Linked DNA regions of Homo sapiens. The protein of the gene in region 1 interacts with the protein of each later gene in a pairwise test. Each region holds a gene or a part of one and is shown on either strand. Other genes may lie near its edges. The genes, in order: NRDE2, CCDC183 and UQCC2.

The links.
Region 2: the proteins of NRDE2 (region 1) and CCDC183 interact in a two-hybrid assay, tested with the Homo sapiens proteins (one large-scale study listed by BioGRID).
Region 3: the proteins of NRDE2 (region 1) and UQCC2 interact in binary tests that used the Homo sapiens proteins (3 or more experiments, as listed by UniProt).

The regions. Positions count from the first base shown.
Region 1 is NC_000014.9:90,304,328-90,307,979, reverse strand, and holds part of NRDE2 (nuclear exosome regulator NRDE2), read left to right. Parts: intron 1-3,597; coding exon 3,598-3,652. UniProt on the Homo sapiens protein: Protein of the nuclear speckles that regulates RNA degradation and export from the nucleus through its interaction with MTREX an essential factor directing various RNAs to exosomal degradation.
Region 2 is NC_000009.12:136,794,890-136,799,209, reverse strand, and holds the start of CCDC183 (coiled-coil domain-containing protein 183), read right to left. Parts: upstream 2,873-4,320; 5' UTR 2,813-2,872; coding exon 2,743-2,812; intron 109-2,742; coding exon 1-108.
Region 3 is NC_000006.12:33,698,983-33,701,852, forward strand, and holds part of UQCC2 (ubiquinol-cytochrome c reductase complex assembly factor 2), read right to left. Parts: intron 2,439-2,870; coding exon 2,364-2,438; intron 1,532-2,363; coding exon 1,462-1,531; intron 1-1,461.

The DNA.
Region 1 (3,652 bases):
GGCCAGGGGTTCAAGACAAGGCTGAGCAACATAGTGAGGCTGCATCTCTACAAAAAATAAGCTGAGTGTGGTGGCATGTGCCTGAAGTCCCAGCTATTCAGGAGGCTGAAGTGGGAGGACTGCTGAAGGATTTTGAGGCTGCAGTGAGCTATATTGCATAACTGCAGTGAGCTATATTGCATCATTGCATCCTGGGTAACAGAGGGAAACCCTACAAATTTTTCTGTAGTTGGGTGCAGTGGCTCACACCTGTAATCCCTGTATTTTTAGTAGAGATGGGGTTTCACCGTGTTAGCCAGTATGGTCTCAATCTCCTGACCTTGTGATCCGCCCACCTTGGCCTCCCAAAGTGCTGAGGCGGGCGGATCGCTTGAGGTCAGGAGTTCAAGAGCAGCCTGGCTAAATTTTGTATTTTTAGTAGAGATGGGGTTTCACCATGTTGGCCAGGCTGGTGTCAAATTCCTGGCCTTAATTGATCCACCCACCTCGGCCTCTCAAAGTGCTGGGATTACAGATGTGAGCCACCACGCCTGGCCGTTAGTTGATTATTTGATAAGGATTTTATAGCAAAAGTGCCTTCATTTAGGGAAACATTGTGTTAAATTATAGCCTAGGTCCTGTATAATTATTAAGATCTCATGCTAAGTGATAAATTGGATATAACCTAAATGTCTAATGATTGGGAAATGGTTAAATAAATTATGGCACATCCATACAATGGAACAGTTTGAAGTCAATACAAATTATATTTTCTAAGATTAATGGTATGAGGAGATGCTTTAAAGTAGGAAGGCAGGCCTGAAACTATGTGATATCAACTATTTTGAAAAAGGATGTATGTGCACACACATATATATACATACTGAAACACATATAGTGTCTGAAAGTAGATAGTAATATAGGCCAGTAACATTTTTCCCCTTCCCTTATCATTTTCATCTAATTTGTTATAAAAATGCAGCTGTTAGTTTAAAGTCAGGAAACAGTAAACATTTTTCAAGAGATTTTATGAATATCTAAAATACTGTATATTTTTTGTGAGACTAATGAGGAATCAATACTATTAAAAGAGGATAAAGGAGAACAAAACTAGCTTTTTAACTTAAAGTTTGTTCCTTAGGGAATGGCAGCCTTGTTTAGAACTACATTAGTGCTATTTTTTTTTTTTTTGAGACCAAGTCTCACTCTGTTGCCCAGGCTGGAGAGCAGTGGCTTGAGCCCGGCTCACTGCAACCTCTGCCTCCTGGGTTCAAGTGATTCTCCTGCCTCAGCCTCCCAAGTAGCTGGGATTACAGTCGTGTGCCACCACGCCCAGCTAATTTTGTATAGTTAGTAGAGACGGGGTTTCACCATGTTAGCCAGACCGATCTCAAACTCCCGACCTCTGGTGATCCACCCGCCTCAGCCTCCCAAAGTGCTGGGATTACAGGCATAAGCCACCACACCCGGCCTACATTAGTGCTATTTTATCTCATCACACCTTTGTTAAGGTTGTTTTTGACTCATAAATGGAATGGCAAGAGACTGTCATGAGATAGTCTGAAAGAATTGGGAGGGAGGCTAGATAAAAGGTTTGAGAGAGAATATTTATGTCTGTGTGAGAAAATAGTCCCCTACAGTGGAATTTGCTGTGTTTGGTCAGTGAGGAGGGCAGAGGCACTTAGAGAGGGGACCTGTTGACCGCAGAGAAGCCACAGAGGTGAGGGAGAGAGCCCGGCCCTGAACCAAGGTGAAGTGGAGCGGAGCTTCCTGGGAGCTGACAGAAGATGAAGGCAGTTCTCCCCTGCCTTTTTCTCCCCACGGCATTTCCGGTTTTATTAGGAAAAAATTTTAATATACAGCAAAAGTTGAAAGATTTTTACAGTGAATGCTCGTATAACTGCCCCCTACATCTACCATTAACTTTGTATCCATTAAGTTTGTATTGTACTTGTTTTGTCATATGTGTCCATCCATCAGCCCATCCTATTTTTTTGATGCATTTCAAAGTAAACTGCAGATCAATAAACAACCCCCTAAATACTTCAGCATGTGTATTATTAACTAGAGGTCAATATTTATTTAGTTTTATTCCTTTAATTGAAAATTTACATGCAATGTAATGCACAAAGCTTCATTCTCACCCGAACCTCTGTTAAAATGTGAAATATTACTCTGACCGCCAGAAGTTTCCTCGTGCTCTTTTCTGGTAAGTCTGTACCCCATTCTCCCAGAGGCAATCACCGTTCTTACTTGTTTCCACCCTCAATTCGTTTTTACCTGTTCTAAAATGCATGTAAGTGGAATTATACAGTGTGTACTCTTTTGTATCTGGCTTCTGGCTTCTTTCACTCAGTGTAATGTTTTTGAGATCATCCGTCCATAAGGCACTTACCAGTAGCTCCTTTTTACTGCTGGTAGTATTCCATTGTATGGCTGTACCTCTGTTTACTTATCCATCTTCTATTGATGGACACGTGGACTCTTTCAGTGTTTGGCTGTTAGGAATAAAGCTGCCGAGAGCATTTGTGCTCATGTCTTTGTGTAGACATGTGCTTTCCTTTTTCTTGGGTAAATATGTAGGAATAGAATTGCTGGGTCATAGGTTAGGTCTGTGTTGAATTTTTTAAGAAACAGCCAGATCTTTTCCCAAAGTGATTATACCAGTTTACATTCCCGCTGACAGCGGATGAGAGTCCTGGTTACTCCACAGGTTACTCACCAACATTTGGTGTTGTCAGCCTTTTAAATATTAACACTGTTCTAGTTGGTGTGTGGGGTACCTCATTGTGGTTTTAATTTGCATGTCCTTGTTGACTAAGGATGTTGAGTTGTTTTTTTTTTTATGTGCTTATTGGCTATTCATGTCTTCTTTTGTGGAATTTCAGTTCAGATCTTTTGCCCGTTTTTAAAATTGAATTGTTTGCTAACATACATACAGAAAAATGTACAATTTTCCTTAGCTTTTGCCTGTGCAAATATTCAGTAGTCATGTGTTTGTTAACTCTGGGGACGCCTACATGTTCCATAAAAGCGTTTTAGAACCCAACCTCTTTTCCTCTAGAGTAGAAAATAACCAAATGTAATTTCATTTGACATACTTTGTTTCAGGATTAAAAAAAGAATCTTAGGCCTATATGTTATCTTCTTAAGTAGGGACACAGGAAAATATTGAGAAAACAGGACTGGTCTAGGAAACAGATGATCCAGGTTCCCAGGCCTCAGTGTCCTTATTTAGGAACAGTTAAGAGAAGGGATGATAATTTTTGCCTTGCCTGTCACATATGGCTGTGATGATCAAATGACATAATGTGTGTGACAGTTCTTTACAAGGCTCCAGGAAAATAGAAATTACTAAGATCTAGAAGACAGGCATGATCTTAAATTCATGAGATGTTAAAGAAGAGTTGAAGTGTTATAGGAAGAAGTCAAGCCAGGCAGAAAGAAAGTTAATTACTAGTCCTTGTGTATCTCCAAATAGAAACAATCTGAAGGTGAGGTGAATTTGGTTATATGCAGTGAACCTGCATAACGAGAGTTTAGGTCTAATGCGCCTTTAGTCATTCAGAGGTAGTACACGTATTCCCTCAGTAACTTTTTTTCTTTTTCTAATATCAGATACAAGAGGAAAGGAGACTCCTGCCTTGGCATTAACCCTAAGAAGCAGTGCATA
Region 2 (4,320 bases), on another chromosome or scaffold:
CCCAGTCCTGGGCCCCGCGGCGGATGTTGCTGCGCAGGAGGGCCAGCGTGGCCTTGTTCTGGTCCATATTCTCTTTCACCCCTTGGATCTGGAGTGCCCGACACTGCTCTGTGGGCAGGTGGAGGGGACACAGTGGCTAGGATTGGGCCAAGGGCCTGGCCTGGAATCCCCTGGGGGAGGCTTGCATCAGGGAGGCCCCAGGCCCCAGGGTCCAGGGGGATGCCCCCTCCATGGCCAAGATCCCTCCTCCCGCCCTGTCCTGGGGGACACCGCTCCACTGCCCAGCAGCAGCTGTCTGAAGGGCTCTCAGTGGACAGGTGCGGGGAGGTGGACAGGTGGGGAGGGTGAGGCAAAGGAGAGGGATGGCAGGGTCCTGTGGTCCCGTCCAGATTTGCTGCCCATGGAAGCAGGTGGGTGTTTTCCTGTCCATTCTGGCTTTGGGGCCCGTGTTGCTCTTATGCTCACGTCTCCTTGAAGCCCCTCTCTCTGATTTAGTCCCTCCATGCAGGTCCCTTTGATCCCTTCTCCCAGCTCTGTCAGGGAGTGGGCAGTAGGGGGGTCTGTTTTCCCCTCCATGTCCTGGATTGTCCCTGTATTAAAACTAAAAGTCCTAGGCCAGGAGCGGTGGCTCACACCTGTAATCCCAGCACTTTGGGAGGCCGAAGTGGGCGGATCACCTGTGGTCAGGAGTTCGAGACCAGCCTGGCCAACATGGTGAAACCCCATCTCTACTAAAAATACAAAACTAGCTGGGTGTGGTGGTGTGTGCCTGTAGTCCCAGCTACTCAGGAGGCTGAGGCAGAATTGTTTGAACCCAGGAGGTGGAGGTTGCAGTGAGCTGAGATTGCACCACTGCACTCCACCTGGACGACAGAATGAGACTCTGTCTCAAAAAAATAAATAAGCTAGGCGCCGGTGGCTCATGCCTGTAATCCCAGCACTTTGGGAGGCCGAGGCGGATGGATCACCTGAGGTCAGGAGTTTGAGACCAGCCTGGCCAAGATGGGTAAACCCCGTCTCTACTAAAAATACAAAAATTAGCTGGGCGTGGTGGTGGGCACCTGTAATCCCAGCTACTCGGGAGGCTGAGGCAGGAGAATCACTTGAACCCGGGAGGTGGAGGTTGCAGTGTGCTGAGATTGCACCATTGCACTCCAGCCTGGGTGACAGAGCGAGACTGCGTCTCAAAATAAATAAATAAATAAAAATACAAATACGAAAATTAGCTGAGTGTGGTGGCGTACACCTGATGTCCCAACTAATCAAGAGGCTGAGCCAGGAGAATCGCTCGAACCCGGGAGGTGGAGGTTGCAGTGAGCCGAGATCATGCCACTGCACTCGAGCCTGCGTGACAGAGCGAGACTCTGTCTCCAAACAAACATCCCCTAAAAGTGAAGGGGGCCTGCCCCTCCACACCTGCGGGTATTTCTCGTCAGGTGGGATGAAGACTGAGAAAAGAAATAAGACACAGAGGCTGGGCATGGTGGCTCACGCCTGTAATCCCAGCACTTTGGGAGGCTGATGCGGGCAGATCACGAGGTCAGGTGATCGAGACCATCCTGGCTAACACGGTGAAACCGCATCTCTACTAAAAATACAAAAAATTAGCCGGGCATGGTGGTGGGTGCCTGTAGTCCCAGCTACTTGGGAGGCTGAGGCAGGAGAATGACGTGAACCCAGGAGGTGGAGCTTGCAGTGAGCCGAGATCGCGCCACTGCACTGCCGTCTGGGCAACAGAGCAAGACTCCATCTCATAAAAAAAAAAAAAAAAGACACAAAGTATAGAGAAAGAACAGTGGGCCCAGGGGACTGGCACACTCAGCATGCGAGGACCTGCACCAGCCCTGGTCTCTGAGTTCCCTCAGTATTTACTGATCATTATTTTTACTATCTTGGTGAGGGGAGTGTAGCAGGGCAACAGGTGGTGAGAACGTCAGCAGGGAAACATGTGAGCAAAGGAATCTTTATCATGAATAAGTTCAAGGAAAGGTACTATGCCCAGATGTGCACGTAGGCCAGATTTGTTTCACGTTACACAAACATCTCAGTGTAGCAAAGAGTAACAGAGCAGTATTGCTGCCAGCATATCTTGCCTCTAGCCACAGAGCGGTTTTCTCCTATCTTAGAATAGAACGAATGGGAATGGTCGGCTTTACACTGAGACATTCCATTCCCAGGGACGAGCAGGAGACAGATGCCTTCCTCTTATCTCAACTGCAAAGAGGCCTCCCTCTTTCACTACTCCTCAGCACAGACCCTTTACTGGTGTCGGGCTGGGGGATGGTAAGATCTTTCCTTTCCCACGAGGCCATATCTCAGGCTGTCTCAGTGGGGGGAAACCTTGGACAATTCCCAGGCTTTCCTGGGCAGAGGTCCCTGCGGCTTTCTGCAGTGCACTGTGTCCCTGGTTAATCAAGAATGGAGGATGGGGATGACTTTTACCAAGCATACTGCCTGCAAACACATTGTTAACAAAGCACATCCTGCACGGCCCTAAATGCATTAATCTTTGATTCAATACAGCACATGTTTCTGTGAGCACAGAGTTGGGGCTAAAGTTACAGGTTAATAGCATCTCAAAGCAGAAACAATTTTTCTTAGTACAGATCAAAATGGAGTTTCTTATGTCTTCCTTTTCTACATAGACAGTAACAATCTGATCTCTCTTTTCCCCACAAAAAGTTGTGCACCCAGAAACCCCCAGACGGGAAAGGGAGACTGGTCACGGCGGTGCAGGCTCACCCTGGAGCTGAGTGATGGTCTTCAGCTCCTGGGTCTGCTCTTCCACATCTGTCTCACTGTGCCTCCTCATGGCTGCTCTCAGGCCCCCCAAGGGACCCTGTGTACCTCAAAGCCTCCCTGGGCTCAGCTTGCTCAGAGCCGCCACTCAGATTGTCCCCAGAACCTCAGCCCATTATGATGAGAGCCAGGATTCTCAGTGCCTGGGCAACCCTGGAATTGCAGGGCCTCCTGCCTCACTCTGCCCCCAGCCACCTTGGGGTGGCCTCCAGACATGTGTCCTAATTGAAATGAGTCTCCTGGCAGCTGCTCGAGGCTTAGGAGCTCTGCCGGGCGGATGTGCTTTCTTTGAGGGGGAGGTTTGTGATGGGTCTGCAGCACCGGCAGCTCACACCTGCACTGGGTTCCCTCCCTGGCCCCTCCCATGCCCCAAGCCATCCTCCACAAAGCAGCAGGCCGAGCCTCCTAAAACGATTCTGATACTATTCTGATACTGCCTTACGGGACCTCCCTCTGCACCCCCCACCCCCAGCCCCAAGTCCAAACTCCATGCACTGGGTAACCTGGCTCTTGGGACACCCCCACCTTATCTCTTCTGACTTCTGTCCCTGACCTCTCTGTGCTGTCTGGAGCCCACCCTGCTTCACCCCCACTTTCCTTTGGGAATTACTGGGTCTTGGGTTCATGTGTCACTCCAGAAAGGGTATGTTCTCCATCTCTGCACCCCCTCCACCCTTCCCTTAGAGGGGAGTACCTGGAGCACCAGGCAGCCTGGAACTCTGTGGGGTATGCACGAGATGGGGTACACACGAGATGGGGTACTTTTTCCCAGCCTTGCCTTAGTAGGCTCAGGCGGCCATAACAAGGTGCCACTGGCCAGGTGTGGAGGCTCACGCCTGTAATCCCAGCACTTTGGGAGGCTGAGGTGGGTGGGTCACCTGAGGTCAGGAGTTCAAGACCAGTCTGGTCAACATGGTGAAACCCCGTTTCTACTAAAAATACAAAAATTAGCCCAGTGTGGTGGTGGGCGCCTGTCCCAGCTACTTGGGAAGCCGAGGCAGGAGAATTGCTTGAATCCAGGAGGTGGAGGTTGCAGTGAGCTGAGATCGCGTCACTGCACTCCAGCCTGCGTGACAGAGTAAGACTCCATCTCAAAAAAACAAAAAACAAAAAAACAAAAAAACAAGGCGCCACCGACTGGGGGATGTGAACAGCAGCCTGGAGGCTGGGGGCTGAGATCACGGGTCAGCAGGGCTGGTGTCTCCTGAGGCCCCTCTCCTTGGCTTGCAGATGCTGTCTTCTCTGTGTCCTCACGTGGCCGTCCCTCTGTGTGTCTGTGTCCTAATTTCCTCTTCTTATGAGGACACCCCAATGACCTCATTTTACCTTAATGACCTCTGGAAAGCCCCTGTCTTCAAATACAGAGACATGCAGAGGTCCTGGGGGACAGAAATTTGGGGGGACCCAAGCCAGCCCGACAATGGCCTTTGCCCATGTGCTGTCACATAGATCCCTTCCCTTTCTGGTCACTGTTTTTGGAAAGCCAGTCCAGGCAAACTCCAGGTTCTCCCTTCTCTCCCT
Region 3 (2,870 bases), on another chromosome or scaffold:
AAAAAAGGTAACAGAAAAAAGCCCCTGCTCTGGAGCTTTTCCAGAAGTCCATGTTTCCAGTGTCCAGGTGGACACTGAGGCCTCCCTTAGGCGCTTTCCATGACCCCAATCCCAGGGTGGACACACACATAACCCAGAACACAGCACATTTCAGACTTGCCAGGCCCTCAAAGCCTCTCACTACAAGGTGCTGCAGGTCTTTTCTTGTCCTGTCAGAGGAAACATTTGGTAAGCTTACGCCACACAATTTGCAACAAAAATATGAGGCTTGCTGTGAAAACAAATTCTCAGCAAATTTCCTGAACTAAACTCGCTGCCAGAACAAGCTGCAGCGCGGACCAATGGCGGGACTATCTCCCAGCCTTCGTTGCTGCCTGTTTTCCACTTGCAGAGGCTGCCCTGAGGTGAACAAAACAGAGGGCAGAGGCAGGGCCTCTGGAACTTACTTCCGCCCTCACTTCAAGTTCAAACTTTGCTCAAACTGTCCAGGGCCCTCACAATAATGTGCATCAATGCTGCTAATTACACGGACCCAGGGATATAGGAGTAAATTTACACATTAAAAAAAATTGCCAATAAAGTGATTCTGCCTGGCCAAAATATCTTCACCACAGTTTCCCAGAGAGTACTGGAATAAAAATAGGGTTAGAGTTGACATGTAATAGCAGGTGACACCACCAGGTTTTAATCTCAGAAGAGAGTTTTCTAGAAGCCCAAATCCTCAAAACTTAAGTTGCTGAAGGCTGCCAGAAGAAGAGGAAAGACACATTTCTAGAATACCAGAAGGAAATGTGTCAGGGCCATGCCCTCCCAGAAAAGGTTAACCTATTTTTGTATATAATATACTTGGCAACAAAAATAGTAATTTTCCAGTACCTGCCTACTTCATCCCTGGCTCTCCGGCCCCCCTCCTTAGGGACAATGGAGATAGGGAAGTAAGGAAAGGACGGGCTTGGCAGGATGTTTCCTTTCTTGATAATCAGAGTCTATCAATGACTCTAAAACATACCTAGTTAAACTCATATCTAACCCACAGACCACGTCCCCTGGGTCACATAACTCTTAGGCGGATATCCCCAAACACGTTTATTGAATGGTTTTTTGTTTTAATTAAAACCTTCATTGTTTATAAAGCCCTCTTAAGACCATAAAAATAAAATTATTTTCCTTCCATCCTGATTTCAACTACTTCCATTTGGCAAATAGGTATTCCTCTGTTCCCTGATGCCCAGCCTTGAATTTAAAAGCCCTAAAGATAGATTTTCTTTTTTAAATAACGCCTTTGACCTTCTCCACAGTATATGGTCAAAATGCATGCGCCCTGTAGCTTCAGAATTTCCTCTGGGCTGTTCTACAAGACTTTCCATCAAGCAAAACTGTCTTCTTAGACAATTCCCCTTGGCCACTCAAACTCAGAATCATTTGCAAACCAATGAGAAAAGGCAGCTGTGCTTTCATTACCTGTGGACAGGATCAGCTTGTACTCTTCCAACGACAGGCCACTGAAGCTGGTGTCTCTGGGGCGAGGGTACTGGTCACCGGGGCAGAAAGGAAGTGAAGGGAGGGGAGAGATCAGCACACAAGCCCTGCTCTCTAACTGCATTTCACCTAGGCCCTGGGCAACCAGAGGCCAGGAGGCCTAGCAAGGAGAAGAGCAGCGCCACCTCGAGGTCAAGACTTGGCCTCGCAAGAACCAGTACAGTCTCCAGGAGGCAGCTCCAACTATAATGTACCCGTGAGTCCTCCCTGGAAAACGCAGGTATGGGTGGGGCCCCTGATTCTGCATTTCTAACCAGTTCCCAGGTGATGCCCATGCTGCTGCTCATGGATCACATGTTAGCAGGGAGGATTTAGAAAAAATCAATTTTCCACATAGGCATATGGCCACAAATGTTTGTGGAGTTAATGAGCATATTTTTCAAGTATGGGAAAAACCACTCTAAATGGAATTTGACAGTAATCATGTTGGGCCCAGCTCCGTAAAAGGAGGGCACTTTCCCAATCATCCCATCTTTATCACCAGAATGTGGGGAGGTGTCAGTTCCGTCAGAGTGGATGGGAAAATAGGTATAAATCCAATGGCTGTCAGACATTCCCAGGAGCACACACTGGCATATCAAATACATGGCTTCTATTCATAATTGGTTTTGTTTCTTCCCTATATTCACAATTTTAAATAGCTTTTATTTAGGTGGCCTAAAAGCCTCTACCAGGCACCTCTGTTGGCTTGGTTGAAATTACTGGTTTCATTTGAACGCAGCAAAGCCAAGTCTTTACAAAACATTACCTAATCAGATTTTCACTCATTCTTATTAGTTGTCCCGTCAGAAAGCTGGGTATATAAAAGACTGTGGCCCACTCACCTTGTGTTTGTAGTAGTTTGAATGGAGTCGCGCTAAGCTCTCGTACATCTGATCACAGGCCTCAGGCTCTGCAACCTGAAAAGCAAAGAATCCCAAAGGAGGTGAGCAAAGGAGTCCTGCCTCCCACAGTGTCTGTACCTTGAGGAAAGACCATACTTAATAAAGCGTTCACATGAAGCAGGCCTGCAGCTAGCACTGGCTTCTCCACTCTGCGGGAAGCAAACCTGGACTACAGCTCTGCTATTAGAAACTACTTTTTGGAGGCATAGCTCTGCCTCATCAACTCCCCAACCTACAGAAAAATCAGATCAATTAATCAGCAAACAAGCATTTGTTGAGCATCTGTGACTTGTGAGCCACGACACCAGCTGCAGTGGGAGATGCCACAATAGAAATGTAAGGTTGGAAAGGCGTGCCTAACAAAGGGGGTGCTGGGCAGAGTGGGCTACAGGGACTCAGTGGGGGAGTCCCCGCATGCTCAAGTGGTCAGTGCATGATGGAAGTGAG